3 separate regions of the Homo sapiens genome follow, and regions 1 and 2 are each linked to region 3. Evidence: fine-mapped expression QTL. A gene starts in region 3. Each other region holds a variant in brackets. All regions are shown on one strand. Distances are from middle to middle. Region 1 holds the start of LOC124906096 (a long non-coding RNA gene). Region 2 overlaps GPR155 (G protein-coupled receptor 155). Region 3 holds the start of GPR155 (G protein-coupled receptor 155).

Region 1 (8,184 bases), 36 kb before region 3:
AATCAGCACATCTCGTTATATCACCCAGATACAGACTAAGCTTGGTCACATTTTACCACTTCCCCAGCTACCACCTAGTCCATGCTACTGTCACCGTGGCCGCAACTCAGTCTTTTTGCTTCTTTTGTCCCCTTCCAATTCATTTCCCCACAGCACAAAATTATCTCTTAACGTAAATCAGATCATGCCACAGCAGGACTGAGGAGCCTCTGATGCTTTCCCATTACACTGAAACAAAGCCTAAACATCATGCTATGGTCAATAAGGCCAGTGTGATATGGCCCCTGCCTACCTACCTCTCTGAGCATCTCCCACACTCTCCAGCCACCCTGGCCTCCCTCTGACCCTTTCCCACATACTCCCTGAGCTTCTGCCTGGGACACATGCCTTCCCCTCAGACCACGTGGCTCCCTCCTTCTCAACATGCAGAGAAGCCTTCCCTGACTCTCGGATCTGAAATACAGCCCTCACCCCAGTCTCCCTCTATCCTCTTAAACTGATGGGTTTTTCCCTCACACAACTTACACAACCATGTGAAACTATATTATTTTTGTCTCTTTATTATCTGTCTTCCCCTACAAGAATGTAAGCTCCAAGAAAGTAGGTTACTTTGCCTTCGGCCAAATCCCTGGGGCCTAGAACAGTACCTAGCATGTACAGAGGCATTCAATAAACCCTTGTTGCTTGAATAATAAATACAATGCATTATACACACACATAGAAAGAGGACTTTGTGCCCAATAAACAAAATATCCATTCTTTGCAAACATCTTTGAACATTTACATGAATAGACCACAGAACACTTTTCAATCAAGTTGGTGAGACTATAAATTAGTATAAGCTTTCTAAGGAATAATTTGATAACATTTATCCAATTTTCAAATGCAAATATCCTTTGAACCAACACCATTTATTGAAAAGCCCTTCCTTTCCACACTGAATTTCATTGGCATATTTGTGATAAATTAAGTAATCCTCTGTGTACGGGTCTATGCCTGGACTCTATTCCATTCTGTTTATCTACTGTCTATTAGATCACTTTCAATGATGATATAAAGGCTCATATGGACCTGAAAAAGGTTTCTTTCCACAGCATTATTTTTTTCTACTAGTCTATGTTGTGGAGCTGGTTACTCTATACAATAATACATTTAGTAAAGATTTAATACTACGGTAATATAGAAAATGTTTTTGGTTTTGAATTTTTGTAAATTAAGGGAACTACCACTTTGCCTTTTTTTTTTTATTTTTTATTTTTTTGAGACAGAGTCTTGCTCTGTCACCCAGGCTGGAGTGCAGTGGCGTGATCTCTGCTCACTACAACCTCCACCTCCCGGGTTCAAGTGATTCTCCTGCCTCAGCCTCCTGAGTAGCTGGGGTTACAGGTGCCTGCCACCACACCCTGCTAATTTTTGTATTTTTAGTAGAGACGGGGTTTCACCATGTTGGTAAGGCTGGTGTCGAACTCCTGACCTCATGACCCACCTGCCTCAGCCTCCCAAAGTGCTGGGATTACAGGCGTGAGCCACCATGCCCGGCCCCCCTTTGCCTTTTACACTGATATCAAATATTCCTTCCCCCTTCCAAAGTTTCCTTAAGGGCATCTAAACAATACATGTTGCAAATAATACTGAAAAGGTACCATGTTGTGAATAGTGCTCAGGTATCCTAAATAAAACATCTTGTAAAACCAACACTTAGTTTGAGAAGTCACAATGCTGAAGCAACTGGTATCTCTGTGGAGATGTAACTAGGACAAGACCTTAAACTTTTTTTTGTGTTGAAGACTCTAGCAGAATAGACTTTTATTTGTCCATTATGCAAATAGGAAAAAGGAGAGAAAGCCAATCCTCTTTTTGATTTGACTGAGAAACCCTGTTAATGTTTATATCACTGGGAACATAGGCATCAACTACATTATCACCAAGGCAACAAACCAACAAGTAAGACTATGAGCCAGAATTACTAATGTTGTTGAAGGTCATGCTTACGCTATATGGCAACAATTTCTAAAATTTCTAGCATCTACAGGACTTCTTTGTTCAATAATAATTTCAATGATAAATTTACTTAAAACAGAAAAAGTGGGTAGAAGTTGGGAATATTTGTGCAAGACTTTATATCACACTGGAAATAAGACTGATGTCTTGTGAGAGTTCACATTTAACATCTTACCTCATCAGATTCTTTTACAAAGTTTTAAGCTATGAAACGATCTCTTTCTCTCCCTCTCTCTAGTTGCTATGGAGAAGAAATATCTTTTTCACCTCTTTATTAGACATTTTTTTAAATTATGAAGTTCTGTATTTTCAGAGCCAGACTCTGATATGTCATTAGTTAGCACTAAAAGCACAGTGTGACCTGTGAGTCTCAATTTTAGAAATGGGAAATGGGTTGTTAGGATTTAACTTGACAGCAGTGCAATTGGAACAATTTATCTTCCATGTTACAAAGAACAAGAGTCAGACTGACATTGGACTTCTCATCAGCAACACTGTGCTATGGTTTGAATGTGTCCCCTCCAAAATTCAGATGTTAGATTAAACCTTGTTGGTCAATGTGATACTCTTAAGAGGTGGGGTTTTTAAGAGGTGGTTAGACCATGAGGGCTTCTCCCTCACAAATGGGATGAAGGCCGTTATAAAACAGGCTTCAGGCAGCTTTCAGCTCTCTTGCCCTTCTGTCTTCTGCCATGAGAGGACACAGCGTTCCTTCCCACTGGAGGATGCAGCAATAAGAGTCATCTTGGAAACAGAGGACAGCCCTCACCAGACAACTGAACCTGCCAGCACCCTGACTGTGGACTTCCAGCCTTTAGAACTGTGAGAAAGTACATTTCTGTTCTTTATAAATTACCCAGTCTATGATATTTTGTTATAACAGCACAATCGGACTAAGACAAAAAGGTACTAAAACACAACGAGGAAATAGCTACTGTTATTGGTAACATGATTATGAACTGCAATAGTGTGGCCAGGCAAGCACAATTAAGTGTGAAGGTGGAATAAAGACACTTTTCCACACATGCAAGGACTTGAAGCAATTACCTCCCATGTGCCCATTTTTGGGAAATTGCTTAAAAATATTCTGCAGCAAAACAAGGAGAAAATGAAGAA[A/G]GGGGAAGACCAGTGATCCAGAAAACAGTGAAACAAACCCAAAAAACAGGAAAGGGAAGTTGCAATGTGACTTGCTATGAGGCAAGATGAAAGAGTAACCAGTAGAGATTGGAGGAGAAGGTGACGCCGCAGGAGGAAAGTCACCAGTGAAAAAAGTGTACATGGAGGAGGGGAATGGTTTTAAGTAATAAAATGAAGTAACTGAAAAAAGGTTGAATATATTATAAAGGCAAATGACACAAGAGGTGCAAAAAAAAAAAAAAAGGCAGCTAGAAATACCACAAGAAAAAAAAAAAACCATTGGCCAGAAGTGGTGGCTCACGTCTGTAATCCCAGCACTTTGGGAGGCCAAGGTGGGCAGATCACTTGAGGTCAGGAGTTTGAAACCATCCTGGCCAACATGGCGAAACCCCGTCTCTACTAAAAAAATTCAAAAATTAGCTGGGCATGATGGCGGGCACCTGTGGTCTCAGCTACTCAGGAGACTGAGGTGGGGGAACTGCTTGAACCCATGAGGTGGAGGTTGCAGTGAGCTGAGATTGTGCCACTGCACTGCAGTCTGGGCAACAGAGGGAGACTCCATCTCAAGAGAAAAGAAAAAACAAAACAAAACAAAAACATAATTTTTTAAAAAGGAAATGAAAGCATAATGTGCCCCCTTGCTTCCAATGTAAAGAGAGACCTGCTCTCTAGGAGTAAAAATTTAGTGTTGCAGTGTAATGGCTCATCAAATTGAATAAAGTCTGTGTAGATTAGGAAAGATCTTCAAAATTAGGCTCTGAGATGTGTACCCGTGGTCTGAGAAGCACCAGAGAGCCACAACTTGTTCTTAAGGAAGAGAATGAAAAGTTAAAGGCAGCATTTTAGGCAAGGTAGCCTGGCAGTAGGAGAGGAAGGAGGCCAAGTGGTATGTCTGTTGCCATTTTCCAGGTATGAGGTGGAGGAGTAAACCCACAATAGGGAAGGAAAAAACAAATCAGGAAGGCATTCCAAAGGAGGATGCTATAGGACCCAAGTACCAGGATTGGATAGAGGAGAGGGGATGGTTCCAAAGTTTTCTGGTCTGTGAACCAGGAAAATGGTGAAAGCTTTTATCTAGTATTGCTGTTTGATCATTGTACACATACTTTTCAGCCTCATTCTTGTCCTCCTCCTTCTTCTTTTCCTCTTCCTCTTCACAGGTTAATTTTAGGCTCCTTGAAGGCAGAGCCTAAAGCCTGAGTGTGTTTTATTGACAACCAGCTCTGAGGCCTACCACCATAGGCACTCAGCTGATGCGTGTGGTTGATGGTGGTGGTGGTGATGATGATGTCACAGTGCTTTATAGATGGGGAAAATGGGGAAGAGGAGTCATTTGGGGCATAATGATGATGGGGCCGGGTGCAGTGGCTCACACCTGTAATCCCAGCACTTTGGGAGGCTGAGGCAGGTGGAACACCTGAGGTCAGGAGTTCAAGACCAGCCTGGCCAACATGGTGAAACCCCGTCCCTACAAAAATACAAAAATTAGCCGGGCATGGTGGTGGGCACCTGTAATCCCAGCTACTCAGGAGGCTGAGGCGGGAGAATTGCTTAAACCCGGGAGGTGGAGGTTGCAGTGAGCCAAGATTGCGCAACTGCACTCCAGCCTGGGTGACAGAGCGAGACTCAGTCTCAAAAAATAATAATAATGATGATGATGATGATGGAAATCAAACTTAGTAAGATGCCAACTCCTACTGGGAGATGGAAAAAATACTTTTTGAAATAATTACTGCTACTTCTTGTTTAATGAAATTCCTTATTTTATGTTTCCTTTCTTTAGCATCCTTTACTTAATGCCATGTCTACCTATGTAGAATTAAAACCAAGCAGTATTGGGAGGTCTGAGCACAGTCAAGGAAACTCACTTCCAAATTCTTCTTTCAACATATGTTTTGGCTGAAAACAAATGCACTCATTTTTAGGAAGCAGAACTACTTAAGCAAGATCCAGCCTACGAGCATGGGTGTTCTACATCTTGTTTTGTTCCTATTTCTGAAGACCAAAAAAAAAAAGCATTATTTTCAAAGGAAGCACTAGGTGGCACTTGTGATGTATTCCACAGTTGCCTCCGATCCTTTTTGAAAAAGGTTTGATAGAAAAAAAAATGCAATAAATATTAAAATGGGAAAATCGTCATTACAATAATGAAGATCAGCATGATTGTGTTTACTATGTTACTATGTATGAGCAATATCTTTATGCAGTATTTGCATTTAAAATCTGAGCTTTGCTTTCTTGATAAAAACTGCAAGACGGGAACTGACATTTCTATAACATGTGAAAACCCCACATCGCTAAAATAATAAGTAAAAATGTAATGCCTGGTTTGCAAAAAGATTGACTATAAATCTTCTTTTAAATAGTTTCTGTCTTCCATTTAGAGTGTTTGAATTTGTAAAAACAGATAACAGAATAAATTTTTCAAGGTCCATCTATTGTGAAAAGCAAAATTTAAAAAATCATAACTTGAAATAAGGCACTGCAGCTTCCAGGTTTTGACTAATATTAACCAAAAAAAACAAAAGAAAGAGAAAGAAAGAGAGATGAAGATTAAAGCAGATATCTCAGGGTTTTTACCATCTTTAAAGTAATAACGTAAAGACTTTAAGCAAATGTATTCTTTTCTGTTATTCAGTTAGTTCCCATTTGGCAACTGCTTAATTATCTCATGGTCCCATTTCAATGTCGAGAGATTGCAAGCTTTTAACAGAAATTCAGGTTGAGAAGGAACTATGAAAAATAGAAAATATTGTTGCCAAATACCATGGCAACAACTGTAGCCTGCAGACCTTTTCACGATACTGCATCTTTCCCCTACCTATTGTCTAGCCTTGGCAGTAACCATTTTTATGGATTAGGTTCTCTTGTGGCTTCATCTCACTTTTCTACCTCTTATTCTTCCTTTGTTTCATTTTTGTTCCTTATTTTAAATGTTTTTTTTCTTGCCATACCTCTGTAGGATAATTTAACACAATGAAATCCTTTTGGAACAAGCTGGGTTATAAATAAATTAATAATAATGCTAATGTACTGTCTTGTAATTGCACTAATGTGTGGGTTTGGATGAAATTGACATTTTGAAGGTAGTATCTCATATAGTAGTAAACTCAGCATGTCAGAACTCAGAGCTAAATATGCAAAACAGCGACAGTGCTGAAAAAAATCTTGGATCTCGGTGTAATAGTTGAATGTCTTTGGATGCAAATGATGGAAATGGATTCTGACTAACAGAAGCAAAAAGAGACTTTTAACAGGGTGCTAGCTAGGAACTCAGGATAGATGGGAGGCTGGAGAGCCAAATCAGGACACAAGACAGGAATGAAGGCAATTCCTGGAGTCCAGGCAGCATGAACAACTGAAGGATCTTATCTGGGTGCTGCTCCTCCAGTATATGTGTTCCAATATTTTCCCATTCCTTATGCGCCTCCACTCAAGATGAAAAGTTCCAAGAGTACAGTCTGCTTGATGTTTGCTGGGCATTCACAGATTTATAGTACTAAAAATATGTGAGACCAGGTGCAGTGGCTCATGCCTGTAATCCCAGCACTTTGGGAGGCCAAGGCAAGAGAATCACTTGAGTCCAGGAATTCGAGACCAGCCTGGGCAACATAGTGAGACAGTGTCTCTACAGATAAATAAATAAATAAGTTAGCCAGGCGTGGTGGTGCACATCTGTAGTACCAGCTACTTGGGAGGCTAAGGTGGGAGGATTGCTTGAGCCAGGGAGTTCAAAACTGCATACAGTGAGTGGTGATCGCACCACTGTACTCCAGTCTGAGTGACTGACAGAGATCTTCTCTCTCTAAAAAAAAAAGGAAATTTAGTATGGAATGAAAGCTCTCTTGAAAGTTTGCCAAAACATAAAATAGCATACATTTGGGAAAAGAAGTTATCCCAGGAGTCCAGTTGTCTTACTTTGGGTCACATGTAGCTCCTTGGTTGCAGAGAGGAGATGAGAAATATTGAGTTACATTCCGATCAAGACTGTCCTCCAACTGGAAGATGCAATAGGAAATTGGGGTACTCCTGGGAAGGGTGCTCTTGGTTGCTGGCCACCGAAAAAACAACGTATGTGCATTACATTACAGCAAGAGTAGATTGTAAGTTTCTGTGTTGTATTCTAAAGCTCTAGCGTGGGGCAAGTAGTGTCTCTGAAAAGTGCATATCCATGCAGAACCTCAGAATGCAACTTTGTATAGAAATAGAGTTACTGCTGATGTTATTAGTTAAGGATCAAGACGAGACCTCACTGGATTAGAGTGGACCGTAAATCTAATGATTGTCTTTATAAGAGTCAAAACAGCAAGCACAGAGACACACAGAGAAGCAAGTGATGTGAAGACGGAGGCAGAGATTGGAGCAATGCACCCACCAGGCAAGGAACACCAAGGATTGCCGGGTCGCCAAAAGCTAAGAAAGAGGCATGAGGAGGTTTCTCCCTCGGAGCTTCTAGGAGGAACTAAGCTTACCCACACTTTGATTTGGGACTTCTGGCCTCCTGAATGGTGACAGAATACATTTCTGTTGTTTTAAGCTACTCATTTTGTGCCACTTGGTTATAGCAGCCATTGGAACCTAATGCAACCCCTAAGAGCAGATTTTTTGGCAAAACCCTAAGAAGTAAAACCATGAGAATAAGCACATGGTAAATGCATTTTTGTGACTGTGAATACAAATGCATTTTTGTGACAGTGAACCTAATGCAACCCCTAAGAGCAGATTCTTTGGCAAAACCCTAAGAAGTGAAACCATGAGAATAGGCACATGGCAAATGCATTTTGTGACAGTGAATACATTTTGTGACAGTGTATTCCTTTTTATTTCAAAAGAGAATAAATCTATGAATGGTTTAGTTCATTTATGCCACAAAGAGCTATTGAGTCCCTCTTATGTGCTGGGACATTCTAGGACCTGGAAATACAGGGGTGAACCAATGGGACAGACTCACTAATCTCAGAGGGCTTGTACTCAGAGGGTTAACAGTAAACAAGACATATTGGGGTTGAGATCAGAGCCAAGAGGAGAGCAAAGCCGGATGATGTG
Region 2 (8,184 bases), 26 kb after region 3:
GCTCTGCCTCATGCAAATTACTTAACTTTTGAAGCCTCAGTTTCCTCATTTGTAAAACTAGGTTACAGCACCTTACAGAGTTACTTTGAGGACAAACTGAAATGTTGAGTATTTATGTCTGGTACATGGTAGGCACTAAATAAATAGAACTATGTTAGTTATTAAATAGAAGAATTAGAGGTAATAAGAGAAGAAGAAAACTAGGGGAATAAAAAGGCATGGAAATAGAAAAGGACCCAGTGAGAAAGACTGTTTCTCATTTCAGCTGGCTCCAAAAAGGATATTCAAAATGTTGTAGCACATTGCTATTTTGAAGTATAATATTTATGTGGATGCATGCATTCTGGTATGTTTGTGAAAAATTCTGTCTGGCTGTTTTGTATTCATCCTACAAATTTGAACCTATAAAATGGCACATGAAAGGAAATAGTAGAATGGTAGGAGGCAGGTGTCAGGAAGTGTCCACAAAGGACGGACCTTTGATTTCATGCCTTCAGGATCAAAAGCAGGTCCCATCTCAGTCAACAGCCTTTTGAAGTGAAGCAACAATGTGGTGAGGAATCATGGAATGAAAAATTCAGCACAAACAGAAGATGGTTTGTGCTTCTTAAAGGCAACTACATCTTGCATAGCATGAGTTTTTATGCAATGTCAAATTAAAAGAGCCTAAAGACTTTATATTTCAAAATATCGATGGACCAACTTGATGTCTAATAACTAGGCTTACTCAGGTTAACTTTATAATCAGAATAACAGAGCAGCAACTAGATCAATCAATTAAAATGTCCTAAGTCTCTCTGAAACCCCCTTCAAGCATGCACGCCAAAGTCTATTCAAAGAAGTCATTCTGAATTCCCAAAACCCAATAAAGGTGCCCTTTAACCATCAGGTTATTATGCTATGACAGAATTTTAGACCTGAAAATGTCATTTTAAGTCATCCCATTCGATCATTTTTAGTTCTACTCATTTTCATACCATCCTCACAATTTTTGCCATATCTGCATACTACTTGTTCTTTTTTCCTTAAAATTGATTTACTTTTTTTAAACTTTAATCAGTTGAGCCTTATATCAGTAAAATCCCAGGTTTCATTTGCTAATTAGTTTTTTTCAAATATGCATTAAAATAAACATATAACTAGTCAAAACATTTTCACCTTTGTGACACCTATAATCTCTACACCTTAGGAAACACTGGTCTAATTTAAATCCTTCATTTTGCAAACTGAGAAATAGGCCCAAAAAGATAGACTGATTTAGGCAGGAGCTCTCACAGCTTCAGTGAGACATCCAGGGCTAGCTGGATTCTGCCTGTTTGTATATAGTTCTTTTCACAAGGCAGGAGTGATGCACATTAGAATTTTAAAGACTGCCTTTGCTACTGTAACAAAGATGGCACCCTTTTGTGATTGGTTACTTGTTTCCCTGGCACTGCAACTACACAGTGTACAAATGGATTGAGGGAGGAAAAGTGGTAAAGAAAACCAATTCTCAAGGACCTCAATGTCAATTTATATTAAATCTAGCACAGTGTTATTTAATCTGGACAATCTTAAATCTAGGTATGTATTCTTTATATACAGCTAATATGCAATTCTAAAACCAAAGCAAATTCACAGATTCTATTCAAACAAAACTACAAACCCAGTAATTCTAATTAGCAACATTAATTAACATGACAAAGGATCTTGTTTTGCTAATGTAAATCATAGCTTGAAACATAAAATGGAACTCACTGCTATGGCTTTTTTGCCTTGCCTTTACTTCCATATGTGGGGTTTTGACCTTGTTATCTCACTGATATTCTTTCTTCAAACTACCATTTCATTTGGACTGTGCGTTGTAATATCATTTGGCCTTCACTTGACTCAAACTTAATATAAAACCCATTGTAAGCTCTGGCCAGGCACAGTGGCTCATGCCTGTAATCCCAACACTTTGGGAGATCCAGGCAGGAGGATCGCTTGAGGCCAGTAGTTCGAGACTAGCCTGGGCAATATAGTAAGACCCTCTCTCTATAAAAAATTTGAAAATTAGCTTTGCATGCTGGTACATGCCTGTAGTCCCAGCTACTCAGGAGGCTGAGGCAGGAGGATCCCTTGAGCCCAGAATTTTGAGCAGTAATTGTGCTACTGTACCCCAACCTGGTTAACAAAGTGAGACCCCCATCTCTAAAATAAAATAAAAATAAACCCAATGTAAATTCTGAAATCATGAGACTGCATGTTGGTTGCAAGGTGGATACACAGCTGACTACCACTGAAAAAAAAAAAAGAAAGAAAAAAAAAAGACTTAAAATTTCTCATAGAAATTCCCAGATCCTGAAGAATATGTCTTAGGTACCCTAGGGGTCCACAAATCTGAGTTTGAGAAACTGATTCAAGAAACAAAGAATTTAGCTTGTGTCAAAAGGCCAGGTTTCTAGTCTCACTCTGCCCTCTGCTGGCTGTATGACTTGGGCAAACCCTCATTTCCACATCTAAGGTGCTCATTTAAAAATAGAGGTCCCTTTCAACTTTAAAGTTCTAAGATCCTATAACTATGTAGAATTTATTAAATAAAATGTTACTTGCATACATAATTACATATAAGTTGTAAGGAAAGTTCAAGAACTTCAAAACATTTGTGTTTGTATTAAATTCAGAGTGTGTTTGTATTAAGTGCTATCATTACACTTAGGGCGTTTTCTAAAAACATAACCTGGGTAAGAGTTGCCCATACTTCTTAGCACCAGAAGAGGGGGATGTTTTTATTTTTAGAATTGTCCTGTATTCAATTAAAAAATGTTTTTCAGCTGGGCATAATGGCTTATGCCTATAATTCCAGAACTTTGGGAGGCCAAGGCAGGTGGATCACTTGAGGCCAGCAGTTCAAGACCAGCATGGGCAACATGGTGAAACCCATCTCTACTAAAAATACAAAATTAGCCTGACATGGTGGTGCACACCTGTAATCCCAGCTACTTGTTTGGCTAAGGCATGAAAATTGCTTGAACCCGGGAGGCAGAGGTTGCAGTGAACCAAGATCATGCCACTGAACTCCAGCCTGGGCAACGGAGTAAGACTCTGTCTAAAGAAAAAAAAAATGTTTTTCAGTTATACTTAGATTCCAAACACATGAATCAAAACAATAAAATGATTAGGGCTTTTGGAGAGAAATACTTCTCCAGACGCAGTGGCTCATGCCTGTAATCCCAGCACTTTGGGAGGCAGAAGTGGGAGGATCCACTGAGCTCAGGAGTTCAAGACCAGCTAGGGCAACATAGTATGACTCTGTCTCTACAAAAAAAAATTCTTATTTAGCCAGGCATGGTGGCATGTGGCTGTGGTCCCAGCTACTCAGGAGGCTGAGGTGGAAGGATCACTTGAACCCTGGAGGTCAAGGCTGCAGGGAGCTGTGATCACACCTCTGCACTCCAGCCTGGGCAACAGAGTGAGACCCTATCCAAAAAACAAACAACAAAAACCAGAGAGAAAATAAAATAAATCCTCACAGATAAAAAGAATTGAGTAAAGAAACAATATATGAGGGAAACAATGAATGATTTTGAATTAAAACTTGTTTCAAAATATTGAGGATAGCATTTATTTAGAAGGAAGAAATTCTAAAGCAAAAACCACACACTACTATGAAATAAGCTTGGTTTAAAAAAATAAAAAGGAAATAAAGTTTCATAAAGTCTGATCAATGTTGAGTAACTGTCTCTCTTTCAATCTTCTTATTCTTAGGCCTTCTAGCAATTTCTTTGTTTCTTTTGAAAAAGCGAGAGAGGGTACAAATTCCTGTTGGAATAATCATAATATCTGGCTGGGGGTAAGTTGGTAGTTCTCTGTTTGCTTACACCTTTCCATATAGACAGTTACTATTCAT[C/A]CTTTCTTTTTCTCTCCCAATATCACTTGTGATTACAGAATTCCTGCTCTCCTTGTTGGTGTTCTTTTGATAACTGGAAAACACAATGGAGATAGCATTGACTCAGCCTTCTTTTATGGAAAAGAACAGGTGGGAAGAGTTTACTGGCAGTTCTGTTCTTGAGAATGTCTCTTTTTAGCTCGTTATGTGCCTTGCTAGACTTATATTAAAATTAACTTTGAAAATCTATTTCAATTTATTGCATATCAGATTGGTGATCCTATATCACTTTGTCTCATCTAGAACATGAACATTTTACATGTCTAAGTCCATTTTTAGCTGAAGATTTCTAAATGCTTAAAACTTATTGAATGTTCTTAATCACACTTAGGAATTGTGTTTCCTGTGCTGGAGAAAAGAGTGATTAATTTAAAACCATTTAATAAGTTAGCAGTAATAATAAAGGTCAAATTCTTGACTCTTAATCCTATCATAAATATAAATTTCAGGACAAAACGTATCTAGGAAAAATATTCTTGAAAAGCTATAGAGTAGGTGGCTTGTGGGACCTGCAGAATTCTTTAGGAGTGGAGTCCAAAGATGTGTTTTTAAAAAGCCTCTCCACATAATTTTGATTTCTTACTCTTTTTTTCTGTTTTGCAATTTTGGATTTTATTGTGTTTTTGTGAGAATAAATAAGATTATACATATAAAAGATTTAGAGTAGTCTTGGCATCTGGTTAGTGCTCAATAAATATTAGCTATAATTATTTTTAATATCATTACCATAAAAACATCTTAGTGACTGAAGTATGCGTGAATTATACGTGGAAGTGAGCAGAAACAGGAGTAAAGAAAACATCGGAGAGAAATCATTTAGATTCCTTGTAAAGGAAACCAGTGGCTGTGTTGGTAACCAATTGTTATACATGAAAGAAGCATCTAAAACCTTGTGTAATTACAAGCAAACCCTAATTTCTCTCCAAGTAACTTACATTCCTTATATACACTTACCTTTTTAAAAGAGCTACTGTTCTAGAGTATTTAAAACTGTGGAGATATATTGTCCATCAAAAACGTGCCCTAAGATGGCTGGGTGCGGTGGCTTACACCTGTAATCCCAGCAGTTTGGGAGGCCGAGGCGGGTGGGTCACGAGATCAGAAGATTGAGACCATCCTGGCTAACACGGTGAAACCCTGTCTCTACTAAAAAATACAAAAAATTAGCTGGGTTGTGGTGGCGGGCGCCTGTATTCCCAGCTACTTGGGAGGCTGAGGCAGGAGAATGGCGTGAACCTGGGAGGAAGAGGTTGCAGTGAGCCGAGATTGTGTCACTGCACTCCAGCCTGGGCGACAGAGCAAGACTCCATCTCAAAAAAAAAAAAAAAAAAAAAAAATGTGCCCTAAGATTATCAAGATGAAGTTGTGAAAAGTGGCCTGATATCTTTTTTTCATGTCGGCAGATGATCACCACAGCAGTCACCCTGTTCTGCAGCATCCTGATAGCTGGCATATCCCTCATGTGCATGAACCAGACTGCCCAAGCAGGAAGCTATGAAGGTTTCGATCAGTCTCAGAGCCACAAAGTGGTGGAGCCTGGAAATACTGCTTTTGAGGAGAGTCCAGCACCAGTAAATGAACCAGAACTTTTTACAAGCTCTATTCCAGAAACAAGTATGATCTTTTTAATTTTATTTTTATTTATTTGAGACAGAATCTTGCTCTATCATCCCGGCTGGAGTGCAGTGGCATGATCTCAGCTCACTGCAACCTCCGCCTCCTGTGTTTAAGCGATTCTGCCACCTGAGCCTCCAGAGTAGCTAGGACTACAGGTGCCTGCCACCATGCCCTGCTAATTTTTGTATTTTTAGTAGAGATGGGGTTTCGCCATGTTGCCCAGGCTGGTCTCGACCTGCTGAGCTCAGGCGATTCACCCGCCTCGGCCTCCCACAGTGCTGGGATTACAGGCATGAGCCAGCCTGATCTTTAAATATAAAGAAACTGCTACATGCCTTTATAGCATGTATCCTAAATGTTTTGTTTATGGGAAACTTCCTTGAACTAGTTTGAATATCATGAGTGCTTGTCAAATGAAGAATTTGAATCATAGTCAACAAACTTGCTTGTAAAATTATTCATTAGATTTTTGTTTATAAGTCTTATTGTGAGTATACACTTTTGTTAAATCCTAAAACTTCCCTGGACCTGAGAATATAGAAAAAAGTAACAACTGAAGGAAGGCCCTAACTAGGAAACGAAGCACATACATAAGTTAATTTAACAATATTGTATCAGGCAAGCACCATCAATAATATGAACTAAAGGAGGCCTGTTTAAAGCCAGATTAATGATGTAAGTCAGTTTTGGGCAAACTATAGTCCATAGGCCAAATCTGGCCCACCACCTGTTTTTGTATGGTCCACCAGCTAAAAATGTTTTTTTTCTTTGTTTGTTTATTTATTTATTTTTGCCACAGAGTCTCGCTCTGTTACCCAGGGTGGAGTGCAGTACCCTTGGCTCACCGTAACCTCTACCTCCTGGGTTCAAGCAATTCGCCTGTCTCAGCCTCCCCAGTAGCTGAGACTACAGTCGCACGCCACCACGCCTGGCTAATTTTTGTATTTTTAGTAGAGATGGGGTTTCACCATATTGGTCAGGCTGGTCTAGAACTCCTGACCTCAGGTGATCCACCCGCCTCGGCCTCCCAATGTGCTGGGATTACAGGTGTGAGCCACTGCACCCAGCCTAAAAATGTTTTTTACATTTTTAAAGGGTTGAAGAAAAATTAAAAGAAGACAAATACTTCGTGACTCTTAAAAACTACATGAAATTTTAATTTCATGTCCATAATTTTATTGAAACATAGCCATGCTCATTCATTTATATATCATCTATGGCTACCTTCATGCTATAATGGCAGAGTTGAGTCTTTGGGGCCTATACTAAGGCAGTAGGTATTGGATAAACAGGAGAGGCCAAACTCAGGCAAAGTTGTATTGACAGGGTTTGGTACTTGATTAGAAGCTGGGTGAGGGCTAAGAGAGAAACTGAGAACAACTTCCAGAAATCTAGTTTAAGTGAATGTATAATTGTGGGTATTACCTAAGAAGAATTCACAGAGAACAGAATATGTAGGGGAAGATAATGAGTTCAATTTGACCCTTCTAAGTTTGAGATGCATGAGACACCAAGGATTCATTTTAGTTTCTCAGTGTACCTCTTAAAATGGGATGCTTAGATCTGAATATAACATTCCAGTTACCATGGTCCTAGGACACAGTGAGCATTCAATATTTGATGAATGCTTGTTGACTGAGTGAAGAATAAGAGAATCATTCCTGTCCTTACTTAGAAAAGAAACTTTTAATTCTGCCTAACATTGCATTAACTTATTCTGATGATTTCATCTTGAATTTATGAGCAACTAAAAACCTGCCTCCCACCCCGAGTACATTACTGAACAGTTTCTCTCCAATCCTGAATTTTTGCATCTGGCTTTTAAAAGTCTAGGACAAAGCTGGGTATGGTTGCTCACACCTGTAACCCCAGCACTTTGGAAGGATTGCTTGAGCCCAGGAGTTCAAGACCAGCCTGGGCAACATAGTGAGACCCTGACTCTACAAAAAATAAAAAATTAGCTGGATGTGGTGGTACACACCTGTAGTCCTAGCTACTCAGGAGGCTGAGGCAGGAGGATTGCTTGAGCCCAGGAGGTCGAAGCTGCAGTGAGCCATGGTCACGCCACAGCAATCCAGCCTGGGCAATAGACGTGATCCTGTCTTTAAAAAAAAAGTCAAGGCCTGGTGCGGTGGCTCACACCTCTAATCCCAGAACTTTGGGAGGCTGAGGTGGGCGGATCACAAGGTCAGGAGTTTGAGATCAGCCTGGCTAACATGGTGAAACACCATCTCTACTAAAAATACAAAAATTAGCTAGGTGTGGTGGCGGGTGCCTGTAATCCCAGCTACTCCAGAGGCTGAGGCAGAAGAATCGCTTGAACCAGGGAGGCAGAGGTTGCAGTGAGCTGAGATCGTGCCACTGCATTCCAGTCTGGGTGACAGAGCAAGACTCTGTCTCAAAAAAAGTCTAAGACAGGACTTCAGTATTTGCCTAAGCCTATCAGGACTGAGATTTCTTTGTGTCTTGATTTGTAATCAAATATATTAACTTATTTATTGTATGGTGCTTCTCTTCTCTTCTTCTCTTCTTTTGAAACAAAGTCTTTCTCTTCTCTTCTTTTGAAACAAAGTCTTTCTCTGTCTCTCAGGCTGGAGCGCAGTGGAGCAGTCTTGGCACACTGCAGCTTCCACCTCCTGGGTTCAAGTAATCCTCCC
Region 3 (8,184 bases):
TACCTTGGTCTCTGCACCATTCTAAGACTGGCTTCTCTTATGGTTCTAAAATGGCTGTCGGCATCTTCCTCTTGTCTAGCAAGAAAGAGAAGATCAGCATTCTCTGCAAAAGTCCTGAAAATTATTCAGCTGAGCTACTTCAGGATCAGTGCCTACCCTGACTAATCATTAAGTGCAAAGGGATGAAATACACTGATTGGACAGCCTACATTAGTTACATCATCTCTGAAGGGAGAGTGAAGTCAACTTCTCTGGAAACATGAATCCCTAAAGAGAAAATGATGCTATTGGGAAGGGGAAGGGGAGTTTTAAAGAAACTAAAAGTTTTTAAACAAAATCTGGCATCGTACTAGACATGTTCAAACAGCACATTTTAAGTCACTCTCTTTTATTTTTCTATGCTTTACTCAACTTTGATTAGACTTTATAGATGGCCCAGTTTCCACTTTTTCGAAGAAGATCATCCTCAAAATTTCGCTAGGGAGTATTTAATAGGCATTAAAAATGATATAAATCTATCTATATGAATAAATTGTTTATGGATTAAAAAGGTATTACTAAATGAGAAGTGACTAAAATCATGTGTATGAAAATCATATGTATAATCCTATTTTTCTTAAATAATCTATATTTGCATAAAATGATACATATATGGTATAATATTAAAGAAGTTATCCATAGGTATGATTTTCACTTTCTTCATTCCTTTCTGTATTATCTGAATATGTTATCATTGTTATTACTTTCATAGAAAGAAACATTAGAAGTACTTCATTTTGGAAAAGATAAAATTCACCAGGAATCCACATGTACATCATATTGCCTCAACATATATCCTACATGACCTTTGTCATTGTATCAAACCATTTGGTTTGTTTCTCCTGTCAATTTTGATCAGCGGGACTTGAGGGAAATCGGGATATCAGTGTGCTTGAAGTTTATAGGTCCCACTTATTTGTAAATGAAAGTTATGATTAATTTACAGTTTTCCCTCCATTATTCTGCATTACTTTTAGCTTTTCTTCATTTTTTCCAGTTAATAGTATAGAATAAGTCAGCATCTCACAGAATGATTAGCAGATATGGCAGTGGAATTAAGTTAGTTTCTCGTGGCGTTCATTGGTAACTACTTCTCTGAGGGTGACTTTTTAATGAAGTCTTTCATCTTTGTTTACATTTTGTTCTTAGAGTTTCCTTCCACAAGCTGCTCTGTGGAAGGAAACCTCACCAATGAGGTTTCCACAAGAAACTTCATCAATTCTGTACGGATGTCTTCTCAAACCATATCTTTATTTCTGCTCTTTCTCTCTCTTTTCTGTTTTCTCCCTAGGGGTCTACCGGAAATCTCTACATACATGTGCTGATGCCTTTATGAGAAGTTTGTTTACAGGACGGGGGGGCTTTTATTCTCATTCTCTGTCATGGACTAGTTGAGTGTTCTTAGACCAACTGCTTAATCTCCTAGAGTCTCAGATGGAGAGGATGATAACTTCAAGAGAGAAAACTGAACTAGAAAATTTCTCAAGGTTTTAGATTTGAGGTCTAAAACCACATTCATTATTTTCTCCTTGAAACTGCTTCTCCCACTGAAATAGTTCTTCCTTTCATTTTCAGGTAACAGAATAATAGAAAACAACGAAATTTTATGGCTGGACAGGATACTAGAAGCTCTCTAGCTCAATTTCTTTTCTTTATTTTAATGGATGAGGAAATACATAAGCTTGTTAAATCCTTCCTTCTCTCTCTCTCTCTTTTTTTTTTGTCGTTTTCAGACAGGGTCTCACTCTGTTGCTCTGGGTGGAGTGCAGTGGTGCGATCTTGGCTCACTGCAGCCTTCGCCTCCTGGGCTCAAGCAATCTTCTCATCTCAGCTGCCTGGGTTGCTGGAACCACAGGTGTGTGCCACCACACCCCGCTAATTTTTTTTTTTTTTAAAGACCAAGTTTTGCTCTGTCACCAGGCTGGAGTGCAATGGCACGATCTCAGCTCACTGCAACCTCTGCCTCCCGGGTTCAAGCGATTCTCCTGTCTCAGCCTCCCAAGTAGCTGGGATTACAGGCGCACACCACCACGCCCGGCTAATTTTTGTATTTTTAGTAGAGATGGGGTTTCACCATGTTGGCCAGGCTGGTCTCGAACTCCTGACCTCAGGTGATCCACCCACCTCGGCCTCCCAAAGTGCTGGGATTACAGGCCTGGGCCACTGCGCCCAGCCTAATTTTTGTATTTTTTGTAGAGATGGGGTTTTGTCATGTTGCTCAGGCTGGTCTTGAATTCCTGGGCTCAAGTGATCTTCCTGCCTTGCCTCCCAAAGTGCTGGGATTACAGGCGTGAGCCACCTTGCCCTGTCCTTCCTCCTCTTTAGCCCTATCAGTAACTGAGTCTCATCAGTTCTCCCTTTTCCTGTCTCTCAGGCCTATTCCATTATTTTTACTGTCATCACCCAAGAGTAGGTCTTCATTTCCTTATGTCTTGGTTCTTCTCCAAGTCACCACACTGTTTTTCTTGCCTTCAGTCTCTCTTTCAACTAATCATGGTACAGCTTCCAGATTACACACCCACAAATAGTGTGATCATTCTGACATGTTCCTGTGGGGAAAGAAAAGTTACATGTTTTACTGTGGCCAAAGGATAAGGTTCAAACTAACCCAAGGAACCTCCTACAGGTTGACCGTAACTTACCTCTGCAGGCCTATCTTCCAGTATTCCCCTGATAGTCAATGCTCAATAAGTATTTATTTAATTGAATTAATCTTCATACTTCCTAAACAAAAATCCTTTTAGCCTTGAGATAATTTAGATCTTCAATTTTTTTTTTAAGTAGTCAGGTTCAAGGGAAACAAAGAAGGCAGTTAAAAGTGAGGAAGACAGAGAACAAAGGAGAAGCAAAGAGAACTGGAGCAGGATCCATGCCTTTTATAGCTTTAATTTCTGCTCATTTTTCCTGCTAAGTTTCAGATCCTTTAACCTACCCTTAGCTTACTGTAATTTTTCTTAATAAGCCACACAATTTTGTATCTTTGCACTAAGATGGCCGAGATGATAGGAAGACACGGAAATTGCCATACAGAAATGTTTAAGATGCAAAGCAAGATAAAAGGTTGTAAACAAATGCTTGTAGATATCTTAAGTGGAAACATATATAAATATTTTAAAATTTGAAATAATTTTTATTTCAAAAGGCTAACTCAATTGCAGGATTTCTTCAGGTTTCAAAGTGGAGCACCATATTTGGGATACTATATATAGGTTTGTTGTCTGATGCCCATGGCAAGTTAATACACTGGGACACCAGGTTGCAGAAGAGAAAGAGGTTTAATCATAGGGCCACCAAACACAGATAGGAGGAAACCTCAAATTCGTCTCCAGGAGGACTTTGAGTCTCAGGTTCTTAAGGGTTTTAGAGTGGTCCCAAGTGTGGAGATCATTAATTGGCTGAAGAGTACAGGGCGAAGTCATGGGACAGCGAGATGAAGAAGCTGTATTCTCATGCTGATTCCCTTCTTCTGTGGCAGGGGTCTTCAAGCTGGCTGGCATCAGCTGTTTCGCTGGAATTTGGCGTCTGAAAAACATTTTAAGCAATTCTTAAAAAGCCTTACGACTCTTAACATCAGAAAGCCTATCTATAGGGACAACGGGATACAAATGTACTATCTAGCTCTACCCGACTTTCGGGTTACAAGGAAGTGGGTCAAAGTGTAGCCTGATTAATGCTTAATTATATTTTTGTCCAGAATTCTTATAAACCCTGTGAGGATAGTTTCAATACCTTTATTTCAAGAAGCTTTGGAAGTTTTCCATCAATGTAACCAGTTTCAGTATACTGAGTGGACATGCATGTAGTTCCCCACCCCCACCCCACCCCCGTACCGCAATAGAATAGAAGCAGTCATGGACGGGGCCCAGATTCTAAAACAAGCTCAGGGCTAAGGGTTTACATTTTAATCTCTTATGTAGGAACGTCAAGGTCACACTGCCTTGGTGAAGGTGGAAGGCAGGATTTTGACCCAGGTCTGATTCTAAGCCCTTGCTTTAAAACTCTATGCTATAAAAAGTCCTGGGCTAACCGGGAGCGAAACTGGCAGATCACACGAGGTTGAGGTTAAGCGGAAAGACAAGTCTGCTCTGCGTCTGTACTTGGGAAGAGGAAAAAAAACTGGACATCCCCCACGGCGGCTACCATTTTGTGGGAGCAGGGAAGCCGGAAGTCCCGCCCCGGAGGATCGCGGCTGGGAGGCTCCCAGCCGGCAGGGCGGGGCCGGGTACCCTGGGGCTCCGAGGCTGGAGGAGGGGGCGGGGACTGAAGGCGGGGTTGGGGAACGTGTGGCTCGGAGGCCCGAGGCTGTGGGTGGGGCCTGAGGGCGGGACGGAGACTCTGGGCTCAAGGCTCCTGGAAATGGGCGGGGCTCGAGGGCGGGAAGCGGCCCGTCTTGCTGGAAGTTCGGGGCTGGGGGCGGGGTCTGAAGGCGGGGCTGGGAGGGAGCGGGGCCTGAAGGCGGGGCGGGGGCGGGGCCTCGCGGCCGGCGAGGGGCTGAGCTGACAGGGCCGCATCGGCTTACCCCACCTTACTTTATCGGAACGTGCCTAAGCTGCTGCAGCTGGCACCCGGTTGCGCTCGGCGAAGAGGGCTGGGGGCGGGAGATGACGGTGGTCTTCTCCCTGCTTGGCACCCTGCGAGCACCAGCTCCCTTCTCCTCGCCACTCCAAGGTTGCAGACGAAGCAGGTGAGAGGGGCCCCTGGAGCGCGGACCTGCTGGGTCCTGGTTCTCCCTTGCGGGCACGGGGTACCCCTGCCTCTGCCCCTCAGGCCTGGGCACGTGGGCAGCCGCCGACCCTCTGCGCCCTGGCCCCGCGGCCCGTTGTCTGGACCTGCTGTCTCTGCCCCGCAGCGCCTGCCTGTGGAACGTGTGAGATCACCCGGGAAGGCTCGCGCGGGGGAGGGGGTGTCTCGTCCCCTCCGGAGACAGAACTGCCATCCCTAGTTTGGGAAGCTCCTCACTGCACGGGCGTCCACCCTGTCTTTCTTAGACTCTTCCCTTTATCCCGAGGGTACCCTCAGTATCTGGCCCTTCCGAAGGCTTCTGCCCAGGCACCTGGAGCACTGCGCCAAATTTTCTCCCTTACCCGTTTTTGGGGTATGTTAGTTACCATGACGTTGTGACTCCCGTGCCCTGGGAAGACTAGCGACCACCTTTTTCTTACGCCAGGCAAAGACCCCTGGCTGCCTTTCCACTTCCACAGCTGCCTTCCCAGGGGTTGGCTGGCAGCTGCTCTCCGAGCAGCCTATTCGGTTAGGAACTCTCTGCGCCCCTTATCTTGGAGGGCCACAGTCTGTCCCTGCAGACGAGGCAAGGAGGCAGTGCTCAGCGCTCCCTACCCTGGGTCTCTAGGGAGGACATTTGGCGCCCTGCAAGTAGGTAGGAGTGGGTGAATGGTGCGACTATTAATGTTGAAGAGTGCTCTAATAGTACCACACTGTATTACACTTATCCCACGGGATAAAGGATGTTGGATGTTTGAGAAATAGCCTGAGAGTTTAAAGCTTTCTCTATGAAGTTAGTCAACCCTCGCCTTCCCCCCGCATTTTCACTTAATAGCAGTTATTTACAGTATCAGTGGTTCGTTTATGTGATCTAAGCCAAATGTGATGTGGCTAGAAGCGGTTTGTAAGTACAGTAGCATTTCTTCAGTTCGTGCCTCAGCGAGTGGTCTTTTACTGTGAACGTGTTTGTTCTGTAACAAGCTTTGTTTTTATAGATAAAAAGGCTGGATGTAATTTTTTTTTTAAAACTTCCCTTGCTGTGGTTCCTGTTCATTTTAAAATATGCTTTAGAAAGCATATTATCTTCCCGTTTAAAAAAGATTAGGATGAAATGAAACTTTTAAAGTCATTTTGATTATTTTGACTTTACCTCAGCAGGTATTTCTTTTATAATACTGAGAAACGTTAAAAGAAACCTCATGGGGAGGGGCAGATTGCTTTTTTTTTTTTTTTTTCTTGAGACGGAGTCTTGCTCTGTTGCTCAGGCTGGAGGGCAATGGCAGGATCTCGGCTCACTGCAACCTCTGCCTCCCGGGTGCAAGAGATTCTCCTGCCTCAGCTTCCCGAGTAGCTGGGATTACAGGCATCTGCCACCAAGCCCGGCTAATTTTTGTCTTTTTAGTAGAGACAGGGTTTCACCATGCTGGCCAGGCTGGTCTCCAACTCCCGACCTCAGGTGATCCGCCCGCCTCGACCTCCCAGAGTGCTGGGATTACAGGCGTGAGCCACTGCGCCCGGCCCTTTTTTTTGTTTTGTTTTTTTGTTTTTTAATTTTTCAACGAATTGAAAGTTAATCTTGGACATTGCTACAACTATTTGACCATCACCCTGAGAAAAATGAAGAGCTCTGCCTTCACTGTTAACCATTTACTATCAAACCAAATTAAATTCAACTTATCTTAATTGTTTGGTATAAAACAAAAACTGATAAATTTATGACGCATCCCATCCCTCTTTTTTTAGTTGGTGGATCTTTTACCAGTTATGTTTGAAGAACTAACATGTTTACTTTTTTATCATTATTAGTAGTAAGACAACAGTTCCTAATAGCAATTGCTGCCGTTTTTTGAAGGCCTACTCTGTGATAAGCTGTATATAAAATATTCTATCCACACAATATCCCTCTAAGGAGGTCTTTGTTTGAGACAGGGTCTTACTCAGGCTGGAGTGCAGTGGTGTGATCATGGCTCACTGCAGAGACCTCCTAGGCTCAGGTGATCCTCCCACCTCAGCCTCCCAGGTAGCTGGGACAACAGGCACGCATGACTAAGCTCAGCTAATTTTTTGTAGAGACTAAGGTTTTGCCATGTTGGCCAGGCTGGTCTGAAACTCCTGGGCTCACACAGTCCACCTGCCTGGGCCTCTCAAAATGCTGGGATTACAGGCGTGAGCTGCTATGACTGATCCCTATAGGGAGGTTTTTACTCTCATTTTACAGTTGAGGAAACAAAGGTTCAGAAAGACTAAGTAACTTATGAGTTGATAAACCATAAAGCTCAGAATCTGTTTGACTCTCCACTGAACTTCTGCTAGTTTAAACTGTTGGTTAAAAAATATTATTGGAATGCCTTGACATGCTCGTGTTGTACAAGTAAGGGCTTATAAGCAGAATGAGTTATTAATACTCTAGGCACTTTTGAAAGTGAACAGAAGACTGGATTAATTTATCACTTTCCTGTTTAGCACTGCCTTTCCAAGTACACACCGTCTTAAGGGCTCCAAATGTTTAACGCCTTTGTTTAATTGTTTACCAGCTCCTTACTTCAAGTATGTGTATCTGTACCAACCGGTAGCTTTCCCAAGATATAATTTGATGCTTATTTGGTAAACTTCAAGTATGTGAGTAGTGTAGGTTTCATGTACTATATTGACCACTGCTATCTAATCCTAGTAGGAAAATACTTGTCCTAATCCAGATTAAATATAAGGTTTTCAAATGGTTCGGTTTATACAAGGGTAGCACAGAGAAAATTCCCTTGTACCCACGCCAGCTATCAGTTGTTGGTGATCTCTGGGCTGCCATCTAAGTCTTTTTAATGTGATATAGATGTTTGAGGACTTAACCTGAGCATTGTAAATTTCTGGAAGCATGAGCTTTTTACTTTCTACCTTATATCAGTCTACTTTAGATGGTAAACCCAGAATAATCACTTAGAAATTGGCTATTGTTGGCTGGGCGTGGTGGCTCACACCTATAATCCCAGCATTTTGGGAGGCCGAGGCGGGCAGATCACCTGAGGTTGGGAGTTTGAGACGAACCTGACCAACATGGAGAAACCCCGTCTCTACTAAAAATTCAAAATTAGCCAGGCATGGTGGTGCATGCCTGTAATCCCAGCTACTCGGGAAGGCTAAGGCAGGAGAATCTCTTGAACCTGGGAGGCGGAGGTTGAGGTGAGCCGCAATCACGCCATTACACTCCAGCCTGGGCAACAAGAACAAAACTCCATCTGAAAAAAAAAGAAAAAGAAATTGGCAATTGTCGTCATTTTAATTTCAAGATACTAATAAAAGCTGATTAGCTTTAGAGTTATCCAGACCTCATGTTCATTGTGTTCCTGGCAGCAAGAGGGGGTCTGATAATTATTGTACTATTCGTGTTTTGAATTTGTTCCATGCTTTAGCATTTTCTGAACCTCTTTA

The links.
Region 1: its variant is fine-mapped to the expression of GPR155 in whole blood (TOPMed, PIP above 0.99).
Region 2: its variant is fine-mapped to the expression of GPR155 in whole blood (INTERVAL, PIP 0.97).

What each region holds. Positions count from the first base shown.
Region 1 is chr2:174,519,734-174,527,917 of GRCh38, reverse strand. It overlaps LOC124906097 (a long non-coding RNA gene), which reads left to right. Exons shown (of 3, transcript XR_007087309.1): 3 at 4,922-6,695. LOC124906096 (a long non-coding RNA gene) reads right to left here and starts at 4,501. Exons shown (of 4, transcript XR_007087308.1): 1 at 4,245-4,501. The variant A/G (reference allele first, on the strand shown) is at 3,118.
Region 2 is chr2:174,457,218-174,465,401 of GRCh38, reverse strand. GPR155 (G protein-coupled receptor 155) reads left to right here. Exons shown (of 16, transcript NM_152529.7): 8 at 3,730-3,814; 9 at 3,910-4,000; 10 at 5,314-5,524. Among named protein-coding and RNA genes, the nearest start is that of GPR155, 26 kb to the left of the region's middle. The variant C/A (reference allele first, on the strand shown) is at 3,872.
Region 3 is chr2:174,483,412-174,491,595 of GRCh38, reverse strand. It overlaps GPR155 (G protein-coupled receptor 155), which reads left to right and starts at 4,567. Exons shown (of 16, transcript NM_152529.7): 1 at 4,567-4,723. GPR155-DT (GPR155 divergent transcript) reads right to left here and starts at 4,208. Exons shown (of 3, transcript NR_183819.1): 1 at 4,180-4,208; 2 at 2,682-3,561; 3 at 1-2,588. RefSeq lists enhancers at 1,677-1,776, 4,947-5,016 and silencers at 4,427-4,606, 4,870-5,052.